5 linked regions of the Homo sapiens genome follow. The protein of the gene in region 4 purifies or fractionates together with the protein of the main gene of each other region. This does not show direct contact. Each region holds a gene or a part of one and is shown on either strand. Other genes may lie near its edges.

Region 1 (5,222 bases), on a different chromosome or scaffold from region 4:
GCTCAGATCGCACCACTGCACTCCAGCCTGGGCAACAGAGCGAGACTTTGTCTCAAAAAAAAAAAAAAAAGAAAAAGAAAGTGATAAATACTATGGGGCTGGGCGCGATGGCTCACGCCTGTAATCCCAGCACTTTGGGAGGCCAAGATGGGTGGATCACAAGGTCAGGAGATTGAGACCATCCTGGGTAACACGGTGAAACCCCGTCTCTACTAAAAATACAAAAAATTAGCCGAGCGTGGTGGCACGCGCCTGTAGTCCCAGCTACTCGGGAGGCTGAGGCAGGAGAATCACTTGAACCCGGGAGGCGGAGGTTGCAGTGAGCCTAGATCACACCACCGCACTCCAGCCTGGGCGACAGAGCAAGACTCCATCAAAAAAAATAAAAAATAAAAGAAATGCTATGGAAGAAGTAATAGAATATGCTATGGGAGAGTTTGGAAGAGAAATACACATAGAGTTATACTAATAACCAAAATCCTTTATTGACCATTTATCATGTGCTTGGCACAATTAGCTTAATCCTGAGTCTTAATTGTCAGGATCTTACATTATAAGATAGACAAAAATTCAACGCATGCTTTACTAAGTACCGTTTGTATCAGTGGGTAAAGCACTGTGTTTGGTACTCTCTCAAATGCAAAGATGATTACGACACATGTACTATCGTTTATGAATGGGTGGCCAACAGAACAGATTGCCGCATAGGTAAGCAGAAATCTGCTCTCATTCTCTATTGGCCACAAGCAGGCATGTCTTAGGAGCAGAAGGGTAGGAAGATCTCTAACTGTGCTTGGAAACTTGGGGAGTTACCACGTCTGGCTAAAGTGGTATTGTCTTAAGGAAAACCTATGAATTTGCCTGCGTTGGCTTGGTGCTGAGGAAAGTGGAAGAGAGAGGCTGGGGTACACCTTTCAACATGAATGGAACTGACCACTGGAGGGAAAGAACAAGAAACAGCAGTGAGAACAAGGAACAAAGACCATCCAGCCCCTCACCCACCTGGGGGGAAGTGAGGGGAGATGGGCAGGGTGACAACGTGGCCAACATCTAAAGTGTGAAGAGGGGCTTTTACCAAGTGCCCACCCCTTCCCGAGCAGGGGGCAACCAACAGCATCTGGCGGGTCTTACTACTGGGCAGAGGCAGGGGAACCCTGGTATGAGTTCTGGATTACATAGGAGATGTGACTTGGACACGTTTGGGGCTTAAAAGTAGGAAGGGATCAAGGGGGGAGATTTGAAAATCCCGGTGGAGGTGCGAGGTATCCGGGGAGAGGGTAAAAACGGGAACAGTCTTCAGCACCTGCCTGTACCAGGAGCTCTGTGTATGCCATCTCATTTCCGTCTCCAGCAACCAGGCGGGCCTTGGCGGCAGGAGGCACAGGCTTTGGGAGCAGAGGCCCTGCAGCTTGCCAAGCACACACGGCCCTAGGGCGCCCAGCTGAGACGGCACCTTGGCACCCGGGCCCGCTGCAGCCCGCTCCGGTCAGCTGCACCCCAGTCAGGAGCCTTTCCAGCGGGTCGGAGGAGAACGGAAGTTTGGGGAGACCCGCGCGATTCGCCTGGCTGCATTTTACATTTCTTTCTCCGGCAGCTGGGGTCACGAAGGCTGCTCTCGCCGGCGGTGTTGGAACGTGGACACGTGCGCTTTGGTAATAGGGCAGCCTCCCCCGCGGGCGCAGTCCCCGCTGCGAGCGCCCCCGGCTGCTGAGGCGGGACCGAGGACCCGGAGATTTGAGCCGCGGGTGGGCGGGGAGGGGCCTTTGTGACCTGCCCGCCCCTCCCCGGCACTGTGATGCCGGGGGGCAGCTGCGGGCCCGGCGCGCCTGTCCCCGGCGTCCCCCCCTCCCGGTGTGTCACAACGGCGGAGGCGGCTGTATCTGGAGCAGTCGGGGCGGGCAGGCCCAGCTGAGAGGTGCGCGGGCGAGGACAGCGGCAGCGATGGTGAGGCTTCCCGGGGCCAGGCGGGCTGCGGGCGCGCGGCAGGCGTAGGACCGAGAGCCGAGTCTACGCGGAGGCGCACGGACCCGTCTTCCTGGAGCCGCAGGGCTCAAGGCCTTCTGGGGGTGGCAGTTCAGGGTCGAGGAGTCCGCACCCTCGGGCGGGAACACCCGGTGCCCTTTATCGTATGGGGGAAATAGAGACCAGGGGCCAGTTGTTCCTTAAAGGGACCTAAGGGAGCTTTGCGTGCAGACGAGGGGGAGGGAGGCCCTGGGGAGCCCGACGGAGAAGGGGGCGAGATTCTGGGGTCCCCAGATGGGCAGCCTGTGGACAGAGTGGAGAGAAGGGCGAGTCCGGGGATTCTGGATGGGTGGTCTGGGCCGGGGCGACTGGGGGGCCAGATGCAGTCACGTCTCCGAACCCAGCCTAATGTGACAGGGCCCGGAATGTGACAGAGGACCTAGGGCGCCACGGTCCCCCCACGCGTGGAGGTCTTTCTCGCAAGCCTGGCCAGCGGCTTGGGTTTGCTGCACGCACAGCCCCAGCGCGGCGGGGTCCTCCGGGCGCACTCAGCAGCTCCCAAGTCTTTCCAGCGGTCAGAGTCGAAGGACTTTGGGAGTAAGAAGTCTCTGCTTCCAAAGGCCAGGGGACCTTCGACCTGTTTCCTACCCTGGCTTAGGGGGATCGCGGCTGCTCCCTTCCCTGCCCCCGCCCCTGGATCTTACTGAGGGGCGGCTGCAAACACTCAGTTCCTCTTTCTAGGGTCCCCCTCTCCGCCCCCAGTGCCCCTGGTGGTTAACATTTGCCCCCAGTCCACTTTCCCAAAGCCCAGAATCCCAGGAATCCCTCCTGGACCCCTGATCTTTCAGCAGTAGGGAGATGGGCTGGAAAGATTGGGGGCAGAGTGAGGGCAGAATAAGCCTATGTCATGGCCAAGGTCGGGTTCCCTGGGCAGGCTTGCTCCAGGTGTCAGTGATCCAGAAAGCAGGCGAGAACCCCCTCCGCCCCGCCCTGTTACGTTTGGCCCGTGCCCAGGGCCTCCTGGCTCCCCCGGAGCTCTAGCCTTCCAGCTTCAGTTTTGTCAGCACCCTCCCTCCTCCTAGCGGGCTCCCAGACACCCCTGGGAACTGAAAGAACTTGGGAATATTAGGGAGGGTGGCCACAGGAACCTATTTCTGCCTGAGGACCCTGGTATGAGGCCACACAAAGGGCCCGGAGCTGCCAGTTCAGAATTTTGACTCCTGGCTCTGCAGCTAGCTGTGTGACTTCAGGAAGGTCACTTAACCTCTCTGGATGTGTTTGTTTTACCTGCGAAATGAAGAGGGTTATAATTCAAATTTCCAAGACTCCACTTAGATTTCATTATTTTTAAACTTTTTATGGTAGGGAATTTCAAACATATGCAAACGGAGAGCAAATGGTATAATTAGCGATTATATACATCATCTAAGTTCAATAATTACCAACTTCTGACCTGTCTCACTTCATTTATTCCCTCCCTCCATAATTTTGAAGCAAATGCTAGGCTGCATACTCTAGAATTGATATTTAATATTTATAATATCTAGCAGGTAGCTAGTGTTTTAGGATTTTCCAAGTGCTTCCCTTGCATGCTTTAATTTGGATCTGAATGCCATTGTGGTACAGAGTGGAGCCCAGAGGATGTTTACAGGGGCGTGTCGAGGATCTTAACCCAGCCCTGTGCACAAGCTTGAATGTGTGATCCACAGACGTGTTTCTGACAATGCCTGGTAAATCAACAATTCAAACAGCAAAACTTTATTTTGAACGTGCTTAAGAATTTGGGTGTTTAGCTGAAAACCTATGGTTAAATATTTTGAAATGCGACCACCTTTCATTTATTTTGAAACACTCAATTTTGTCTAGTAGGTTCTATCTAGAACATTTAACTTGTGTGCGTTGCACTGTCTTGATGGCTAATATTTTTTGTTGAACATTTTACACTCACAGAAACTTTTAAAATATCATTTGGCTCATTTGTAAAAGGCTAAAATGACACATCTATAAACCTAGACCCCTAGAATCTCACCCTTACAAAAATGACTGTATTTCTTCTAAGGATTAAGTTTCAGGCTGCTGTCCTGTCCCCTTCACTTCCCTCCCTGGTGGGGGTTTGGGGGAGGTGACCTTGGTGTTAAGGAGAATTCGATTTGGAATTTCTGTAGGCTCTGGGCAAGAAAAGTGTAACTAATCCTTAAGTGTATTTTTAAATGCATTTCTCTAGCTGCTAGGCAGATGAGCATTTTTCCTCTGTGAACTTACCCCCAACCCCTTCTCCCCAGCTACCCACTGCACGGTACCACCAATACCCTTTAGCATTTCTGTCCTGGAGCCTAAAGTGACACAGCTGGTAAGAAGCTGCGTAGGGGCTGGAGTTTACATCTGCTGGGCACCAGAGCCTCTGTCCTGAGCCACCTGCCCGTGCTGGGACCGGCAGGCTACTCCCACAGCAGACCATTCCCATCCATTCCCAGTGTTCTAGCACGCAGCTCTCTGGGAACTCAGACTATGACACCTTTTTTGGGAAGTGGTATGGAGAATCCTGGCCAGGTGCCCTAAGCCAAGCCCATGCCAATGATACCAGGGCACAGAGAAGTTTTCTGTGGTTTATGGGGAGGTGGGAACATCTGCAACACGGCTTCTTTAACTCCATTCCGTTAGGACTGGAGAGCACGAAGGAGCCCGTCTCCCTGCAAAAATGGGCAGTTAGAGGGTTCTGGGGGCCAAATGGACACCCTTCTGCCTGCAGCCTTCTGCAGTCTCCCCATGTAGACAGGCATGGCCAAGCTCTGTGGAGTTGATAGGTGTATTCTGACCTCAGAGCACTGTGTGGGCTCCCAGGGGCTGCAGGTCACTGCTGCCTCCTCCTCCCCTCCCATCACAAAAGGCAGGTTTCCCGAGAAGCACTGGGCGCATGCCTCCGAGTGAGGGGCCTTGGCTCACAGGGCAGCGGCTGGGGCAGAGCTGCTGGATTGGTGAGTCCATTGGGAGCCCCCAGCCTTGGGTCAGGCCCATACAGAGCTTGGGGTGGGGGTTAATGCCACTGTTGAATGTGCTTTCTCCTAGTGACCTTCAAAGGGAGATGAAAGTTAAAAATAATTTTGGTGGGGGAAATAGCTGGTGGATAGCGGGCCAGTGATGGGGGTGGGCAGGAGGATGTGGCACTGTCGGGGGGAGGAAGCAGACCAAATGCTCCTTTTCCCTCAAGCCGCAAGGGACGGACAGCACTATCTGTGGCCTTTGTGGTTGGCATTTCCCCT
Region 2 (4,517 bases), on a different chromosome or scaffold from region 4:
TAAGTTTCTGAAGTGAAGAAGAAGATTTAAGAATGGATTCGGAATAAAATGATCTTCAACAAATAGTTGCTGAGATTATTTTAAGTAGATTTAATCATAGTACCAGCATACACCCCTAAAAGTGTTTTCAGAACCCTGAGGAAAATTTTTGAAAAACACCTTCGGAAGCTGAGTCTAAGTTTTAGCATTATCTGAGATTTGTAATTAATTCACATATTACCCTAAGGTAGACGTAATCTTCAACATACACAGTATCAAATGTAAAAGTTACTGGTTAAGTTAGAGTCTCTTACTAATATCACAAATATTTCTGTTCTTAGAATGATCTTCTGGATGTAGTGGCAAGTATTGACTTATCAAGAAAGACAGTCAAGAGGATTCGGATAAATTTTGTCTTTGCTCTAATTTATAATCTGGTTGGAATTCCCATAGCTGCTGGTATGTGACTCTTAACTAGTACTGCTTTTTCCACTAAAGTTATTAGAGACCTAACATATTGGAAGCCTGTCTTCTTACTATTAGTTTTGAGCTTAGTTTTTGTTTGTAGCCTACTGGTATGGTGAGAGGTAATGTTAAAATCAATCATTTTAATTTTCAGTAATGTTTGTTATAGCTTAAGAATATATAAGCATTCTGACAGATTTATTTTTTTCCCTCCAACTTTTTTTTTTTTTTTTTTGAGACAGAGTCTCACTCTGTTGCCCAGGCTGGAGTGCAGTCATACAATCTCGGCTCACTGCAGCCTCCATCTCCTGGGTTCAAGCAGTTCTCCTGCCTCAGCCTCCTGAGTAACTGGGACTATAGGTGCCCGCCACAACGCCCAACTAATTTTTGTATTTTTAGTATAGACGGGGTTTCTCCATGTTGGCCAGGCTGGTCTCGAACTCCTGACTTCAGGTAATCCACCCACCTCGGCCTCCCAAAGTGTTGGGATTACAGCTGTGAGCCACCACTCCCAGCCTTCAACTTTGTATTTTGAAAAATTTCAAACTTGACACCTGTAATCCCAGCACTTTGGGAGGCTGAGGTGGGCGGATCACCTGAGGTTGGGAGTTCAAGACCAGCCTGACCAACATGGAGAAACCCCGTCTCTACTAAAAATACAAAATTAGCCGGGCGTGGTGGCACATGCATGTAATCCCAGCTACTCGGGAGACGGAGGCAGTAGACTCGCTTGAACCCAAGAGGTGGAGGTTGTGGTGAGCCAAGATCGCGCCATCGCACTTCAGCCTGGGCAACAAGAGCGAAACTCCGTCTCCAAAAAAAAAAAAAAAAAAAATTCATACCTCCAAAAACATTGAAAAAAATGGTACAATAAAAATCTGTATGCCTTTCACCTAAACTCACCAACTGATGGTATTTTGCCACATTGCTTCATCTCTTTCTGCATATATTTGCACAGAGATATGTATTTGTTTGCTTATTAATTTTTTTCTAAATAGATTTACCTTTAATCTGACTACCCAAACCCAACACTGTTTGCAAGATTAATTCATGGAGCAAATGATTTTTAAAGAATTATACAAGTATTTTCCTCTAGTCTTTTTTTTACTCTACATCAGTTTTTGTCTTGTTACATAGTTGTGATTGTAGCTTATGGAGAATTTTCTGCTCTTCACTTAATATTCTATTATAGTCAGCTGGTATTTTTTTTAGGTTGAGAGACCAGATGACAGAGAGAGTGAACAAAGCAATATAACTGAGAAAAAAGAATTTAGAGTTATTTAATAAGCATCTGAGAATCTCCTAAACTTAGGGACCTGGTAGGAGTTAGTAATGATGACATAAAAGAAATAAGTATTGTTTTCTTCTTGTTCTCTCTGGTTTGAGGGCCAAGGAAAGACAAGAAATGACATGAGAACAATTACAAAACTGTTTATCAGCAAGGACACACAAATACTGAGAGAACAAAGAACAAAAGAACAATCTAAGTCCAGTAAGATTAATTCATGGAGCAAGTGATTTTTAAATAATTATACAAGTAATATATGATCACCATAGAAAAAGTAGAAAAATATAAAGAAGCACATAAAAAGTTAAAAGTATGAGTCTATTTCATCCTCATCATGTGAGCAAACATTCTTATGTCTGTGAAAACCAAGTGTGGATGAGTTTGTAGAACATGAACTCCCATACGCTATTGGTTGGATTTTGAATCACTACAGCCACTTTGGAGAACAGCTGAGGAATATCCACGTAAAGTTGAAGATGTGCCCATGTTATGACCCAGTAGTTTCACCCCTAGGTATATACCCCACAGAAACTCTCAAACATGGACACGGGGAGACATGTACAAGAATGTTAACAGCAACACTCTGTTAGTGAAAAAAATGGCAACAACAAAAATCTCTACCACCAAGAGGATAAATGCTGAAGAAGTATCAAACAAAGAAATGATTTGTATGTATGTTAGAAACACATTAATAATCTGTTTAGTATTATCTACTCTAACTAATCCATACTTGTTTCTTAGGAGTTTTTATGCCCATTGGTTTGGTTTTGCAGCCCTGGATGGGATCTGCAGCAATGGCTGCTTCATCTGTTTCTGTAGTACTTTCTTCTCTCTTCCTTAAACTGTAAGTATGATAGCTTGCTCACATTTGTATTTTGTATTCCTGTTATCATCTAGTCATTCTTGGTAGGTTTTATTCTTGTATTGATCAATGATAAGCCCAAACCATTCTTAATGAGAATTATTATTAGCGGCCGGGCGTGGTGGCTCACACCTGTAATCCCAGCACTTTGGGAGGCCGAGGTGGGCAGATCACCTGAGGTCAGTAATTTGAGACCAGTCTGGCCAATATGGTGAAACCCTATGTCTACTAGAAATACAAAAATTAGCTGGGCATGGTGGTAGACACCTGTAATCTCAGCTACTCGGGAGGCTGAGGCAGGAGAATCACTTGAACCTGGGAGGTGGAGGTTGCAGTGAGCTGAGATCGTGCCACTGCACTCCAGCCTAGGCAACAGAGTGAGATTCCATCTCAAAAAAAGAAAAGAATTATTATTAGCTAACAGTAATAATTAGCTATGTAATTGTTACTTCGTGTACTTTATGCATAGCAACCACAAGCACTGAGTGGGATAAAATATAGTGCACTAATTCTGAGAAGTAGGGTTTCTGATGATATAACTCCACACAATTCGTTTCAAGCTATTTTCCTACCAGTGATCACCTTTATACATTTCATACCAAAACTAAGTGTGGATGAGCAAATCTTCTTTCTTTTCTGCATGTAGCGAGCATCTCATTTACTTTTGGTTATTTGAAACTAGCATACTTTTGCATATGTCCAGTTACAGGAAACCAACTTACGAGAGTTATGAACTGCCTGCCCGGAGCCAGATAGGACAGAAGAGTCCTTCAGAAATCAGCGTTCATGTTGGAATAGATGATACCTCAAGGAATTCTCCTAAACTGGGTTTGCTGGACCGGATTGTTAATTATAGCAGAGCCTCTATAAACTCACTACTGTCTGATAAACGCTCCCTAAACAGTGTTGTTACCAGTGAACCTGACAAGCACTCACTCCTGGTGGGAGACTTCAGGGAAGATGATGACACTGCATTATAAAAGGCCATGGAGAGTGCTGCCAGTTTAACTTGTCATGCACTGACACAGCATTCATGATGTTACCTTCACTTTTCAAAATATTGTAGAAGGATTTTTCTCATGCTCTTATATTAGGGATTCTATTTGAGTTGCGTTTATCTGTTGGCAAAAATATCTTTTTCAAGGCATCAGCTCTGAACCTAGCTTTATTTAAACTGAATTTCCAGTATATTTTTGTTTTCACTAACAACAGATAAGGTAGAGCAGTGAGGTTTACAACAAGCCCTACAATTAGAGATTGCTGAACTGCTGCTAAAGTGATTTTTTTTTTATTTGACCAAAAAAAAAAAGGCCCAAGAAGAAGAAAATGAAAAATTTGAAGATTTGAGAGCATGAAGATATTCATGCTTTTGAACTCAAAATATTGAAGATACTCTCAAGCCTGTATCCCTGCCCCACTGGGGAGCAATGACTTTCAAAGCACTGTGTATAAAACATCTAGTTTTAGAAGGGAAACAGTTGAAACTGTTTAAAAATAGATGTGCCTTATTTATTGCAGGCTTTCTTTCCCCCATTCTCCCTGCATCCTTGTCCTTGCAGGTGCTTTTTTAGATGCTCCAATATGTCTTCTTTTGTTATTTTCTTTCGAGCTAACCAAGTTTAGGTGGTTTTTCATTGATTAAAAATAACTGACAACTGTTCTAATATTTTGCTCCTTTTTAAATTTTGTAGCTCAAAAGACCTTAAAGGTCTGTAGGGTTCCCTGCCTCCCATCTTTCCACTGTTGTAAAAAGTATATCAAATTATTCCTTCAAGTTTCCTAGCTCTGTGCTCAGTTTCAGTTCACTCCTGCCAAGTTGGACTCTAAGTTATTCTTCATGTAGTCTGCTGATCTCAGTCTGGAAACTTAACATTATGAGCCTTTTCTGCTCAAAAAATTTTCAAAGATTAAAACTATTATACA
Region 3 (4,517 bases), on a different chromosome or scaffold from region 4:
GCAGACCTTTCCAGGACTGGGCCAGACTCAACACAAGGCCCTTGCAGTGGGGTGCGCTCAGAGCAGAGGGCCTTAAGAATGGCTCCTCTGTTTACAACACACCCAACAGGAATCTGGGCTTACTCCTCACAGGTGGCATGATACTTTGGCCTTCCTGTGACATCATGCCCTATACATGTCTCCCCTGGAGAAGCCCAAGGGACTGCTTTGCACAGGGCCAGTGGGAAATGGCTCAGTATTGGAGGCCAAGACCATAAACTGTGTTTGGTAGTGAGTCTGGGGCTGGAGGGTCTTAGAAATCCCTCTCCAGGGGCTGTTTGTATTTGTTTGGAGGAGGTTGCCACCTGGTGTCTAGTGCTTAGACAGCAGGGTTGCTTGGTTAGAAACAAGTTTCATTTCCTTTTTCCAAGGTACCTGGAGTACAAGAGGGTCCCTAACAGCAGACCACCTGAATATGAGTTCTTCTGGGGCTTGCGCTCCTACCACGAGACTAGCAAGATGAAAGTCCTCAAGTTTGCATGCAGGGTAAGAGGAGAGCTGCCCGAGCTTGGCATATTAAGGCAATGGGATACCCTTGGCTGGGGCAGGCAATGCACAGGGATGGGCAGGTACAGAGCAGCCTGCAGCTCATATATAAACATGTGGAGCCTCCTTTATGTCCCAGGGTGCTGCTAGATATATAGTTTACATCATCTCATTCATTCTTCATACTTTGTATTAATCAGCATGGGCTGCCATAACAAAATACCATAGACTGGGTGGATTAAAAAACAAATTTATTTTCTCATAGTTCTTGAGGGCGAGAATCCTAGGTCAGGGTCCACGAGGGTCAGTTCCTGTTGAAGGCTCTCTTCCTGGCTTGCAGATGGCTGCCTTCTTGCTGTGTCCTCACATGGCTTTGTGTGTGAGAGAGAAGAGAGCAAGCTTTCTGGTGTCTCTTCTTATAAGGACACTAATCCTGTTGATCAGGACCCCACCCTTATGGCCTCATTTAACCTTAATTATCTCCATAAAGGCCCTATCTCCAAGTACAATCACACTGGGTGTTAGGGATTCAACATACGAATTTGGGGGCGGGCACAACCCTTCAGTTCATAACATATTTACGCTCTATCATTTCCTGTAATTATAAAGACACTTAGGCTAAGTGAGGTTAAGTAACTTGTCCAAGGTCATATAGCACGTAAGTCAGCAGAGCTGAAACTGGAGTTCAGAACTGACCCATGATAGAGCCCCAATAACTGAGAAGTTTAAAAAAGTATTGCTACTAGTTTAATACAAAGCCCGTAGGTTAATACATGATTACTAGGGTTGTTTTCTTATTATGATTATCATCCCCATTTCAGGTGCAGAAGAAAGACCCCAAGGACTGGGCTGTGCAGTACCGCGAGGCAGTGGAGATGGAAGTCCAAGCTGCAGCTGTGGCTGTGGCTGAGGCTGAAGCCAGGGCTGAGGCAAGAGCCCAAATGGGGATTGGAGAGGAAGCTGTGGCTGGGCCCTGGAATTGGGATGACATGGATATCGACTGCCTAACAAGGGAAGAGTTAGGCGATGATGCTCAGGCCTGGAGCAGATTTTCATTTGAAATTGAGGCCAGAGCCCAAGAAAATGCAGATGCCAGCACCAACGTCAACTTCAGCAGAGGAGCTAGTACCAGGGCTGGCTTCAGCGATGGTGCTAGTATTAGCTTCAATGGTGCACCCAGCTCCAGTGGTGGCTTCAGTGGTGGACCTGGCATTACCTTTGGTGTTGCACCCAGCACCAGTGCCAGCTTCAGCAATACAGCCAGCATTAGCTTTGGTGGTACACTGAGCACTAGCTCCAGCTTCAGCAGCGCAGCCAGCATTAGCTTTGGTTGTGCACACAGCACCAGCACTAGTTTCAGCAGTGAAGCCAGCATTAGCTTTGGTGGCATGCCTTGTACCAGTGCCAGCTTTAGTGGTGGAGTCAGCTCTAGTTTTAGTGGCCCACTCAGCACCAGTGCCACTTTCAGTGGTGGAGCCAGCTCTGGCTTTGGAGGCACACTCAGCACCACGGCTGGCTTTAGTGGTGTACTCAGCACTAGCACCAGCTTTGGCAGTGCACCCACAACGAGCACAGTCTTCAGTAGTGCGCTTAGCACCAGCACTGGCTTTGGAGGCATACTCAGCACCAGTGTCTGTTTTGGTGGCTCTCCCAGCTCCAGTGGTAGCTTTGGTGGTACACTCAGTACCAGTATCTGCTTCGGTGGCTCTCCCTGCACCAGCACTGGCTTTGGAGGCACACTTAGCACCAGTGTCTCCTTTGGTGGCTCTTCCAGCACCAGTGCCAATTTTGGTGGTACACTAAGTACCAGCATCTGCTTTGATGGCTCTCCCAGCACTGGTGCTGGCTTTGGTGGTGCTCTCAACACCAGTGCCAGCTTTGGCAGTGTGCTCAACACCAGTACTGGTTTTGGTGGTGCTATGAGCACCAGTGCTGACTTTGGCGGTACACTAAGCACCAGTGTCTGCTTTGGTGGCTCTCCTGGCACCAGTGTCAGCTTTGGCAGTGCACTCAACACCAATGCTGGTTATGGTGGTGCTGTCAGCACCAACACTGACTTTGGTGGTACACTAAGCACCAGCGTCTGTTTTGGTGGCTCTCCCAGCACCAGTGCTGGCTTTGGTGGTGCACTCAACACCAATGCCAGCTTTGGCTGTGCCGTCAGCACCAGTGCCAGCTTCAGTGGTGCTGTCAGCACCAGTGCTTGCTTCAGTGGTGCACCAATCACCAACCCTGGCTTTGGCGGTGCATTTAGCACCAGTGCTGGCTTCGGTGGGGCACTTAGTACCGCTGCTGACTTCGGTGGTACTCCCAGCAACAGCATTGGCTTTGGTGCTGCTCCCAGCACCAGTGTCAGCTTTGGTGGTGCTCATGGCACCAGCCTCTGTTTTGGTGGAGCTCCCAGCACCAGCCTCTGCTTTGGCAGTGCATCTAATACTAACCTATGCTTTGGTGGCCCTCCTAGCACCAGTGCCTGCTTTAGTGGTGCTACCAGCCCTAGTTTTTGTGATGGACCCAGCACCAGTACCGGTTTCAGCTTTGGCAATGGGTTAAGCACCAATGCTGGATTTGGTGGTGGACTGAACACCAGTGCTGGCTTTGGTGGTGGCCTAGGCACCAGTGCTGGCTTCAGTGGTGGCCTAAGCACAAGTTCTGGCTTTGATGGTGGGCTAGGTACCAGCGCTGGCTTCGGTGGAGGACCAGGCACCAGCACTGGTTTTGGTGGTGGACTGGGCACCAGTGCTGGCTTCAGTGGCGGACTGGGCACCAGTGCTGGCTTTGGTGGTGGACTGGTCACTAGTGATGGCTTTGGTGGTGGACTGGGCACCAATGCTAGTTTCGGCAGCACACTTGGCACCAGTGCTGGCTTTAGTGGTGGCCTCAGCACCAGCGATGGCTTTGGCAGTAGGCCTAATGCCAGCTTCGACAGAGGACTGAGTACCATCATTGGCTTTGGCAGTGGTTCCAACACCAGCACTGGCTTTACTGGCGAACCCAGCACCAGCACGGGCTTCAGTAGTGGACCCAGTTCTATTGTTGGCTTCAGCGGTGGACCAAGCACTGGTGTTGGCTTCTGCAGTGGACCAAGCACCAGTGGCTTCAGCGGTGGACCGAGCACAGGAGCTGGCTTCGGCGGTGGACCAAACACTGGTGCTGGCTTTGGTGGTGGACCGAGCACCAGTGCTGGCTTTGGCAGTGGAGCCGCCAGTCTTGGTGCCTGTGGCTTCTCGTATGGCTAGTGAGGTTTCAGGTAACTGCAATATTTCCATAGCCAGGACCCACAGGGATGGGTACAAGAGCTGGGAGATGTTGTAAGAAACACTAAGGCAGGACAGCAGGGTGGAAAGGTGAGGGCAATTAAGGAATTATGAGAAGACAGTGTATTTGGTGCTAAAATGTGTTCCTATTTGTTTTGTTTTCAGATTTATTCCCCATGTTTACAGATACCGCTAATAAATTGCAGTAGTCCTTCCCATGGAGCCAAAGTACATCCTTGGAATCTTTGTCCACACAGCAGTCAAGGCAGTTATGGCCAATCAGCTGAGGGTGTCATGTGATGGAAAAATCTGTTTGCTGTTCCTGCTTTATTGTTTGCTTTCTGTGTGCTGTCATATTTTGGTATCAGAGTTACATTAAATTTGCAAAATGAATTGGAGTTTTTTCTGTCTTTTAATGTGCTTAGGTAGTTGTGGAGTGGCATCTTGGGTTCGTAGAAGAGCTGGAGATCAGCATAGCTCTTTGGAGAATGTGGGTCTCCAGCTTTTGGCTCAAAGGCAAATATGATTTCAGCAGGATAGAGGCCTGGGGAAAGCATGGCAGGCAAGAGGATAACAGGTTGAGGAAAGATATGGAGAGGGAAAGCCTGGAGCAGAAGGCAAACGGAGAGGCTTCTGGACAGTAAGTACAGATTGATTTTGAATCACTGGTGTAAGAATGGAGGGAAGGGCAGAGGTCACTAGGGGTGGACATAAGAACAAGGGAGGGTTTAATTG
Region 4 (5,288 bases):
GAGAGGTTGAGTTGGGTAGTTGTTGGTATTTTTGTTTTTGTTTCTTTGCTTATTCAGTTGAGGTTTATTGTAAAACTTGACACCAGAAAAAGGAAGAAGTGGCGTTTTTGTGCTGTGAGCGTGTGACGTGTGTCCTTTCCAGAGAAAGGACAGTCATGGTGCTTTTTTATCCTCTCTGCCCAAAGAAGGAAAGCTCTTAACAGCCAGCAGGAGGCTTTGTAGGGACCAGCGTTATCAACGCCAGTCGCGCTGACCAATGATGAGTTAAAGCAGTTAGGTCGTTTCTAAGAGCAAATCAAAAGCTAAGGTTCTGTGATTCTGAAAATGAGACACGGACAGAGACTGGAGACCCAGAGAGAAAGTGAAGGACTAAAAGACAGTCATAGGGTGGGAGTTTGCTCTCCTCTGTTTTGTTCTGGGTTTTTTTGTTTGTTTGTGCGCTCTGTCTGACCGCTTTTCTTTTTTTTCTTTTTCTTTCTTTTTTTTTTTTTTTTTTTTGAGATGGAGTCTTGCTCTGCCGCCCAGGCTGGAGTGCGGTGGCACAATCTCGGCTCACTGCAAGCTCCGCCTCCCACGTTCAAGGGATTCTCCTGCCTCAGCCTCCCGAGCAGCTGGGATTACAGGCATGCACCACCACACTCAGCTAATTTTTGTATTTTTAGTAGAGATGGGGTTTCACCATATTGACCAGGCTGGTCTTGAACTCCTGGCGTCAAGTGACTTGCCCGCCTCGGCCTCCCAAAGTGTTGGGATTACAGGCGTGAGCCACCGCGCCTGGCCCTGACTGCTTTTCTCTTGGTTTGTTTCTCAATCCCCCTTCCTCTGAGCCGAATTCCCTTTTTGTTCTCATTTTCTCTCTCTGTCCCCTCTCTCTCTCCTTCTTTCTCTCCTTCCATTCCTCCTAGATGAAGCAAAAACTCAGATAAACCAGCACAGAGGCCAGGTATGGTGGCTCACACCTGTAATCCCGGCACTTTGGGAAGCCAAGGCAGGCAGGTTGCTTGAGGCCAGGAGTTCAAGACCAGCCTGGCCCACATGGTGAAACCCCGTCTCTACTAAAAATACAAAAATTAGCCGGACATGGTGGCACGTGCCTGTAATCCCAGGTACTCAAGAGGTGGAGGTTGCAGTGAGCGGAGATCACAGCCCTGCACTCCAGCCTGGGTGACAGAGCGAGACTCCATCTCAAAACGAAAAACAAAAAACAGCACAAAGTTCCCTTGTCCTGTGACTCATTCTCTCTCTCTCTTTCTACCATTTCTCCTTCCCTGTGTCTTTTTTTTTTCTCTCTGTGGGTTTTATTTAAGCAATAGAAGTTCTTAGCAAAGAAAAACTTTATGGAATTAGATTGATCCACTTCATATGTACATATATGAACTCAGTTCAGAAACTCTCTTCTACCCCTGCCTGATCACCTATTTGGAAGTCTGTTCCTTCAACTCTTCTTCTCTTTCTGGGACTCTTTCTAGCTTGGGCTTCCTGCCCCTCCCGTCCACTCTCCTGCTTTCACAGCCTCTCCTTCCCCCTGCCCCTCCCCTGCACTGCATGGGGATGGGCCCCAGGTGTCCAAGGTCTCCCCACCCTCCTTTGTCACTGGAGTCAGGATTAGAACCCAGCTCCCTAGTCACCTTGAGTCATCAGTCCTGGGGCTGCTGACGGGCTTGCAGAGGAGAGAGGGAGTGGGGCTGGGTCTTCCCACCCTGGGTCCTTTCCTCCTTCCCCACTCCGTTTAGCTGTAAAGCTCAATTAAGTGTGATTAGCTGAGAAGAGTTTCTGCAGAATTAGAGCACGCCCCACCCCTGTCTTCGTGGTCCCCTTCCCTTAACCCGGAAACTGGATGGGCCAGGACAAAGAGAGTTAAGAGCTTTGTCAGTGGTCTGTCTGGAGCGACAGATGGAAGGAAAGGGACCGGTTGAGCAACATGACAGGTGGCTGAGGAGCCAGGTGCAGAGTGGTAGAGTTGGCTGGCGGAGTGGCCAGCACATGAGAAGACAGGCAGGTAGGTGGACGGAGAGATAGCAGCGACGAGGACAGGCCAAACAGTGACAGCCACGTAGAGGATCTGGCAGACAAAGAGACAAGGTGAGAAGGAGGTAGGCGACTGCCAATGAGGGAGTGACACACAGGGGAGCAGGTAGAGAGAGGACAAGCAGGTCATCCCCTTGGTGACCTTCAAAGAGAAGCAGAGAGGGCAGAGGTGGGGGGCACAGGGAAAGGGTGACCTCTGAGATTCCCCTTTTCCCCCAGACTTTGGAAGTGACCCACCATGGGGCTCAGCATCTTTTTGCTCCTGTGTGTTCTTGGTGAGTTCTCCCGGAGCAGGGAGAGGGCAGGACTGCGACTGGATCCCTTCACCCCCATGAGGAGGCCCCACCACCCTCCCCATCTCAGCTCTGGCCCCCAGCCTGGTGGTGAGGAGGAGAGGGGCTTTCTCTGTGCCTCCATTTACCTGCAGCTCTCAGGGTACTGCTCACCTCGGTCTCCCCTATTTTTTGATCCCTCTTCCCTTCTGTCCCTCTCTGAATCTCTGTCTCTCCATTTCCCTCCTATGTGTAAGCATCTTTCTCCCTGGGTGTCTTTGATGTTTCATGGTCTTTTTCTATCACTGGGTCTCTCTCTCTTTCTCTCTCTTTCTCGTCTCTCTTTCTCCTCTCTCTCTCCTGCCTGTTTCTCTCTCTCACTCTGTGTGTCTCTCCATCTCTGTATCTTTTCTTCCTCTCTCTGACCCATGCCCCTGTCTGTCTCCAGGGCTCAGCCAGGCAGCCACACCGAAGATTTTCAATGGCACTGAGTGTGGGCGTAACTCACAGCCGTGGCAGGTGGGGCTGTTTGAGGGCACCAGCCTGCGCTGCGGGGGTGTCCTTATTGACCACAGGTGGGTCCTCACAGCGGCTCACTGCAGCGGCAGGTAAGTCCCTTCCTGGGGTGGGCGAAGGGAGGACTATGGGAAGGCAAGCGCTGGGGGTAGGATCACAAGGGAGGGTGGTGCCCACTGGGAAGAAGCTGATCCTGCAACAAGAGAGTCTGAGGTTAGACCAGGAGTGGAACTTCCTTAGCAGTGGGCCTGGGGTGGTGCTGGGCAGGGTGAGGTATGTTGGGTGGAGGGCCGGGGAGGGTCCTGGAACCTGCCCTCCTGCCTCTCCCATTCCTGCATGTACCCTTTCTTTCCTATATGACATCTGCCACTCACCCCAGCCATTCCTTGACCCAGTCTGGGCCCGGGGCCCAGGTCTCACCCAAGCTCTTTTTCTTTTTCTTTTTTTTATTTTTTTGAGACAGGGTCTCGCTCTGTCGCCCAGGCTGCTGTGCAATGGCGTGATCACAGCTCACTGCTGTCTCTGCCTCCCAGGTTCAAGTGATTCTCCTGCCCCAGCCTCCTGAGTAGCTGGGATTACAGGCACCCGCCACCATGCCCAGCTAATTTTTGTATTTTTTGTAGAGACAGGGTTTTGCCATGTTGGCCAGGCTGGTCTCGAACTCCTGGCCTCAAATGACCTGCCCGTCTTGGCCTCCCAAAGTGCTGGGATTACAGGTGTGAGCCACTGCACCCGGCCAACATGACCCAAACTCTTTGTGCAACTTCAGAATCTATGCCTGGCACCTCTCTGGGCCTCAGTAGACTGATGTTCTGGAATTTTTTTCTTTTTCTTTCTTTTTTTTTTTTTTTGGAGACAGAGTCTTGCTCTTTCTGTCATCCAAGCTGGAGTGCAGTGATGCTATCTTGGCTCACTACAGCCTCAACCACCTGGGCTCAAGTGATCCTCACACCTCAGCCTCCCAAGGAGCTAAGACTACAGGCCTGCGCCACCACACCTGGCTAATTTTTAAATTTTTTTTGTAGAGACAGGGTTTTGCTATGTTACCCAGGCTGGTCTCAAACTCCTCAGCTCAAGCAATCTTCCTGCCTTGACCTCCCAAAGTGCTGGGATTACAGGCATGAGCCACTGTGCCTGGCCTGGAACTTTTTTTGTGAAAGGGGAGATCAGATGCAAAGAAACAGAGACTCAGGGAGAGAGAGGGCCAGCAGCAGGATGCAGAGAGGCCATTCATCAACCCACTCGTTCAATCATGAACCCACTCGTCCACGCATGAGCATGGAGGGCACATGCTCCGTGCCAGGCGGTGGGAATAAGGCAGTGAACAAGGTCCACTGATGTCCCTGCCTTCATGGGCTTCACCAGCCGAGAGAATCAGAAAGAGAGGCCTGGCGCGGTGGCTCACACCTGTAATCCCAGCACTTTGGGAGGCCGAGGCGGGCGGATCACTTGAGGTCAGGAGTTTGAGACCAGCCTGACACACATGGTGAAACCTTATCTCTACTAAAAATACAAAAATTAGCTGGGCATGGTGGCATGCTTCTGTAATCCCAGCTACTTGGGAGGCTGAGGCAGGTGAATTGCTTGAACCTGGGAGGTGGAGGTTGTAGTGAGCCAAGATGGTGCCACTGCACTCCAGCCTGGGCGACAGAGCGAGACTCGGTCTTGAAAAAAAAAAAAAAAAAAAAAAGGAGAGAGAGAGACACAGATGCAGGGACATGGTAGGAGAAACAGGGAACACCCAAGATGGAAAGAGGGTGATGGAGGTTGGGAATAAGAGCCTGTAAGAGAGACTCGGAGAATGAGAGTTGCGGGTGAGAGGACAGACAGTGAGGGGCAGAACAGTGGGGAGCGGCAGGAGCGCCTGAGTGTCCGTGGAGGGGTGCAAGGTGGGGGACTGCGTGCCTGCCACCCGCTCAGCCGTCGCCACCGGCAGCAGGTACTGGGTGCGCCTGGGGGAACACAGCCTCAGCCAGCTCGACTGGACCGAGCAGATCCGGCACAGCGGCTTCTCTGTGACCCATCCCGGCTACCTGGGAGCCTCGACGAGCCACGAGCACGACCTCCGGCTGCTGCGGCTGCGCCTGCCCGTCCGCGTAACCAGCAGCGTTCAACCCCTGCCCCTGCCCAATGACTGTGCAACCGCTGGCACCGAGTGCCACGTCTCAGGCTGGGGCATCACCAACCACCCACGGAGTAAGGGGCCCAGGGCCAGGGGTCAGGGGTCAGGATGGGTACAAGTCTGGGATGCAGGGCGAGAGGTCGAATCATGACACCTCAGAGGAAGGATGGGTAAAGGGTCAGGGTGTGGGATGGGACATCAGGATCATGGTTTGGGGTCAGAGATTATGGTGGATTGGGGTCTTGGGAGCCAAAGGGGTTAAAGGACTGGGTATGAAGTCAGGGATCAGAGGTCAGAGGTCAGAGTGTGTCAGAGGTCATCACACTGGAGCAAAAGGCATATATATATAT
Region 5 (3,269 bases), on a different chromosome or scaffold from region 4:
CTCCCTCATGGCTGGCTGACATCCCACCCTGGGTGCCCAAGGACAGACCCCTCCCCCCTGCACCCCTCTCCCCAGCTCCTGGTCCCCCCACACCTGCCCCGGAATCCCATACTCCTGCACCCTTCTCTTGGGGCACAGCCGAGTATGACAGTGTGGTGGCTGCAGTGCAGGAGGGGGCAGCTGAGTTGGAAGGTGGGCCATACTCCCCCCTGGGGAAGGACTACCGCAAGGCTGAAGGGGAAAGGGAAGAAGAAGGTAGGGCTGAGGCTCCTGACAAAAGCTCACACAGCTCAAAGGTACCAGAGGCCAGCAAAAGCCATGCCACCACGGAGCCTGAGCAGACTGAGCCGGAGCAGAGAGAGCCCACACCCTATCCTGATGAGAGAAGCTTTCAGTATGCAGACATCTATGAGCAGATGATGCTTACTGGGCTTGGCCCTGCATGCCCCACTAGAGAGCCTCCACTTGGAGCAGCTGGGGATTGGCCCCCATGCCTCTCAACCAAGGAGGCAGCTGCCGGCCGAAACACATCTGCAGAGAAGGAGCTTTCATCTCCTATCTCACCCAAGAGCCTCCAGTCTGACACTCCAACCTTCAGCTATGCAGCCCTGGCAGGACCCACTGTACCCCCAAGGCCAGAGCCAGGGCCAAGTATGGAGCCCAGCCTCACCCCACCTGCAGTTCCCCCCCGTGCTCCTATCCTGAGCAAAGGCCCAAGCCCCCCTCTTAATGGTAACATCCTGAGCTGCAGCCCAGATAGGAGGTCCCCATCCCCCAAGGAATCAGGCCGGAGTCACTGGGATGACAGCACTAGTGACTCAGAACTGGAGAAGGGGGCTCGGGAACAGCCAGAAAAAGAGGCCCAATCCCCAAGTCCTCCTCACCCCATTCCTATGGGGTCCCCCACATTATGGCCAGAAACTGAGGCACATGTTAGCCCTCCCTTGGACTCACACCTGGGGCCTGCCCGACCCAGTCTGGACTTCCCTGCTTCAGCCTTTGGCTTCTCCTCATTGCAGCCAGCTCCCCCACAGCTGCCCTCTCCAGCTGAACCCCGCTCGGCACCCTGTGGCTCCCTTGCCTTCTCTGGGGATCGAGCTCTGGCTCTGGCTCCAGGACCCCCCACCAGAACCCGGCATGATGAATACCTGGAAGTGACCAAGGCCCCCAGCCTGGATTCCTCACTGCCCCAGCTCCCATCACCCAGTTCTCCTGGGGCCCCTCTCCTCTCCAATCTGCCACGACCTGCCTCACCAGCCCTGTCTGAGGGCTCCTCCTCTGAGGCTACCACGCCTGTGATTTCAAGTGTGGCGGAGCGCTTCTCTCCAAGCCTTGAGGCTGCAGAACAGGAGTCTGGAGAGCTGGACCCAGGAATGGAACCAGCTGCCCACAGCCTCTGGGACCTCACTCCTCTGAGCCCAGCACCCCCAGCTTCACTGGACTTGGCCCTAGCTCCAGCTCCAAGCCTGCCTGGAGACATGGGTGATGGCATCCTGCCGTGCCACCTGGAGTGCTCAGAGGCAGCCACGGAGAAGCCAAGCCCCTTCCAGGTTCCCTCTGAGGATTGTGCAGCCAATGGCCCAACTGAAACCAGCCCTAACCCCCCAGGCCCTGCCCCAGCCAAGGCTGAAAATGAAGAGGCTGCGGCTTGCCCTGCCTGGGAACGTGGGGCCTGGCCTGAAGGAGCTGAGAGGAGCTCCCGGCCTGACACATTGCTCTCCCCTGAGCAGCCAGTGTGTCCTGCAGGGGGCTCCGGGGGCCCACCCAGCAGTGCCTCTCCTGAGGTCGAAGCTGGGCCCCAGGGATGTGCCACTGAGCCTCGGCCCCATCGTGGGGAGCTCTCCCCATCCTTCCTGAACCCACCTCTGCCCCCATCCATAGATGATAGGGACCTCTCAACTGAGGAAGTTCGGCTAGTAGGAAGAGGGGGGCGGCGCCGGGTAGGGGGGCCAGGGACCACTGGGGGCCCATGCCCTGTGACTGATGAGACACCCCCTACATCAGCCAGTGACTCAGGCTCCTCACAGTCAGATTCTGATGTCCCGCCAGAAACTGAGGAGTGTCCGTCCATCACAGCTGAGGCAGCCCTCGACTCAGATGAAGATGGAGACTTCCTACCTGTGGACAAAGCTGGGGGTGTCAGTGGTACTCACCACCCCAGGCCTGGCCATGACCCACCTCCTCTCCCACAGCCAGACCCCCGCCCATCCCCTCCCCGCCCTGATGTGTGCATGGCTGACCCCGAGGGGCTCAGCTCAGAGTCTGGGAGAGTAGAGAGGCTACGGGAGAAGGAAAAGGTTCAGGGGCGAGTAGGGCGCAGGGCCCCAGGCAAGGCCAAGCCAGCGTCCCCTGCACGGCGTCTGGATCTTCGGGGAAAACGCTCACCCACCCCTGGTAAAGGGCCTGCAGATCGAGCATCCCGGGCCCCACCTCGACCACGCAGCACCACAAGCCAGGTCACCCCAGCAGAGGAAAAGGATGGACACAGCCCCATGTCCAAAGGCCTAGTCAATGGACTCAAGGCAGGACCAAGTAAGTATATCATGAAACTTGGCAGAGAGTGTGGGTTAGGGCTGGGTGTGGGCTGGTCAGACTTCAGGAGTGGGACAGAGGGGAAGGTTGCCAAAAGGGTTCTACTTTTCCTCTACAATGAATCCTGGCTTGTCTCTACAGTGGCCTTGAGTTCCAAGGGCAGCTCTGGTGCCCCTGTATATGTGGATCTCGCCTACATCCCGAATCATTGCAGTGGCAAGACTGCTGACCTTGACTTCTTCCGTCGAGTGCGTGCATCCTACTATGTGGTCAGTGGGAATGACCCTGCCAATGGCGAGCCAAGCCGGGCTGTGCTGGATGCCCTGCTGGAGGGCAAGGCCCAGTGGGGGGAGAATCTTCAGGTGAGTAGCAAAGGACACCAAGGAAGTAGTCTGGTCAACGCTCACTCAGAGGCAGTAGTGGAACACAGTCCCTATTTATTAAAGGATGGGCCTTTTCTAAGGGCAGCAGAGCTGCTTCTGAGACCATGAGGTGCCCCTTCCCCCTCACCTACCTTCCCTTTATGTTCTCACATCAGACATATCTTATCTCCCTTCTAGGTGACTCTGATCCCTACTCATGACACGGAGGTGACTCGTGAGTGGTACCAACAAACTCATGAGCAGCAGCAACAACTGAATGTCCTGGTCCTGGCTAGCAGCAGCACCGTGGTGATGCAGGATGAGTCCTTCCCTGCCTGCAAGATTGAGTTCTGAAAGAGCCGCCCTCCCTTCCCC

Evidence for each region.
Region 1: the proteins of KLK12 (region 4) and TUBA8 purify together in Homo sapiens (affinity purification with mass spectrometry; one large-scale study listed by BioGRID and IntAct). This does not show direct contact.
Region 2: the proteins of KLK12 (region 4) and ATP7A purify together in Homo sapiens (affinity purification with mass spectrometry; one large-scale study listed by BioGRID and IntAct). This does not show direct contact.
Region 3: the proteins of KLK12 (region 4) and TRO purify together in Homo sapiens (affinity purification with mass spectrometry; one large-scale study listed by BioGRID and IntAct). This does not show direct contact.
Region 5: the proteins of KLK12 (region 4) and MAP1A purify together in Homo sapiens (affinity purification with mass spectrometry; one large-scale study listed by BioGRID and IntAct). This does not show direct contact.

The regions. Positions count from the first base shown.
Region 1 is NC_000022.11:18,108,925-18,114,146, forward strand, and holds the start of TUBA8 (tubulin alpha-8 chain), read left to right. Parts: upstream 1-1,884; 5' UTR 1,885-1,941; coding exon 1,942-1,944; intron 1,945-5,222.
Region 2 is NC_000023.11:78,042,997-78,047,513, forward strand, and holds part of ATP7A (copper-transporting ATPase 1), read left to right. Parts: intron 1-320; coding exon 321-438; intron 439-2,473; coding exon 2,474-2,576; intron 2,577-3,297; coding exon 3,298-3,574; 3' UTR 3,575-4,517. UniProt on the Homo sapiens protein: ATP-driven copper (Cu(+)) ion pump that plays an important role in intracellular copper ion homeostasis.
Region 3 is NC_000023.11:54,927,257-54,931,773, forward strand, and holds the end of TRO (trophinin), read left to right. Parts: intron 1-48; exon of another isoform or gene 49-179; intron 180-410; coding exon 411-525; intron 526-1,346; coding exon 1,347-3,764; 3' UTR 3,765-3,775; intron 3,776-3,947; coding exon of another isoform or gene 3,948-4,082; 3' UTR 4,083-4,175; downstream 4,176-4,517. UniProt on the Homo sapiens protein: Could be involved with bystin and tastin in a cell adhesion molecule complex that mediates an initial attachment of the blastocyst to uterine epithelial cells at the time of the embryo implantation. Directly responsible for homophilic cell adhesion.
Region 4 is NC_000019.10:51,031,600-51,036,887, reverse strand, and holds the start of KLK12 (kallikrein-12 isoform 2 precursor), read left to right. Parts: upstream 1-1,885; 5' UTR 1,886-2,082; exon of another isoform or gene 2,083-2,093; intron 2,094-2,247; 5' UTR 2,248-2,266; coding exon 2,267-2,303; exon of another isoform or gene 2,304-2,463; intron 2,464-2,748; coding exon 2,749-2,908; intron 2,909-4,752; coding exon 4,753-5,012; intron 5,013-5,288.
Region 5 is NC_000015.10:43,526,977-43,530,245, forward strand, and holds part of MAP1A (microtubule-associated protein 1A), read left to right. Parts: coding exon 1-2,532; intron 2,533-2,673; coding exon 2,674-2,894; intron 2,895-3,092; coding exon 3,093-3,248; 3' UTR 3,249-3,269. UniProt on the Homo sapiens protein: Structural protein involved in the filamentous cross-bridging between microtubules and other skeletal elements.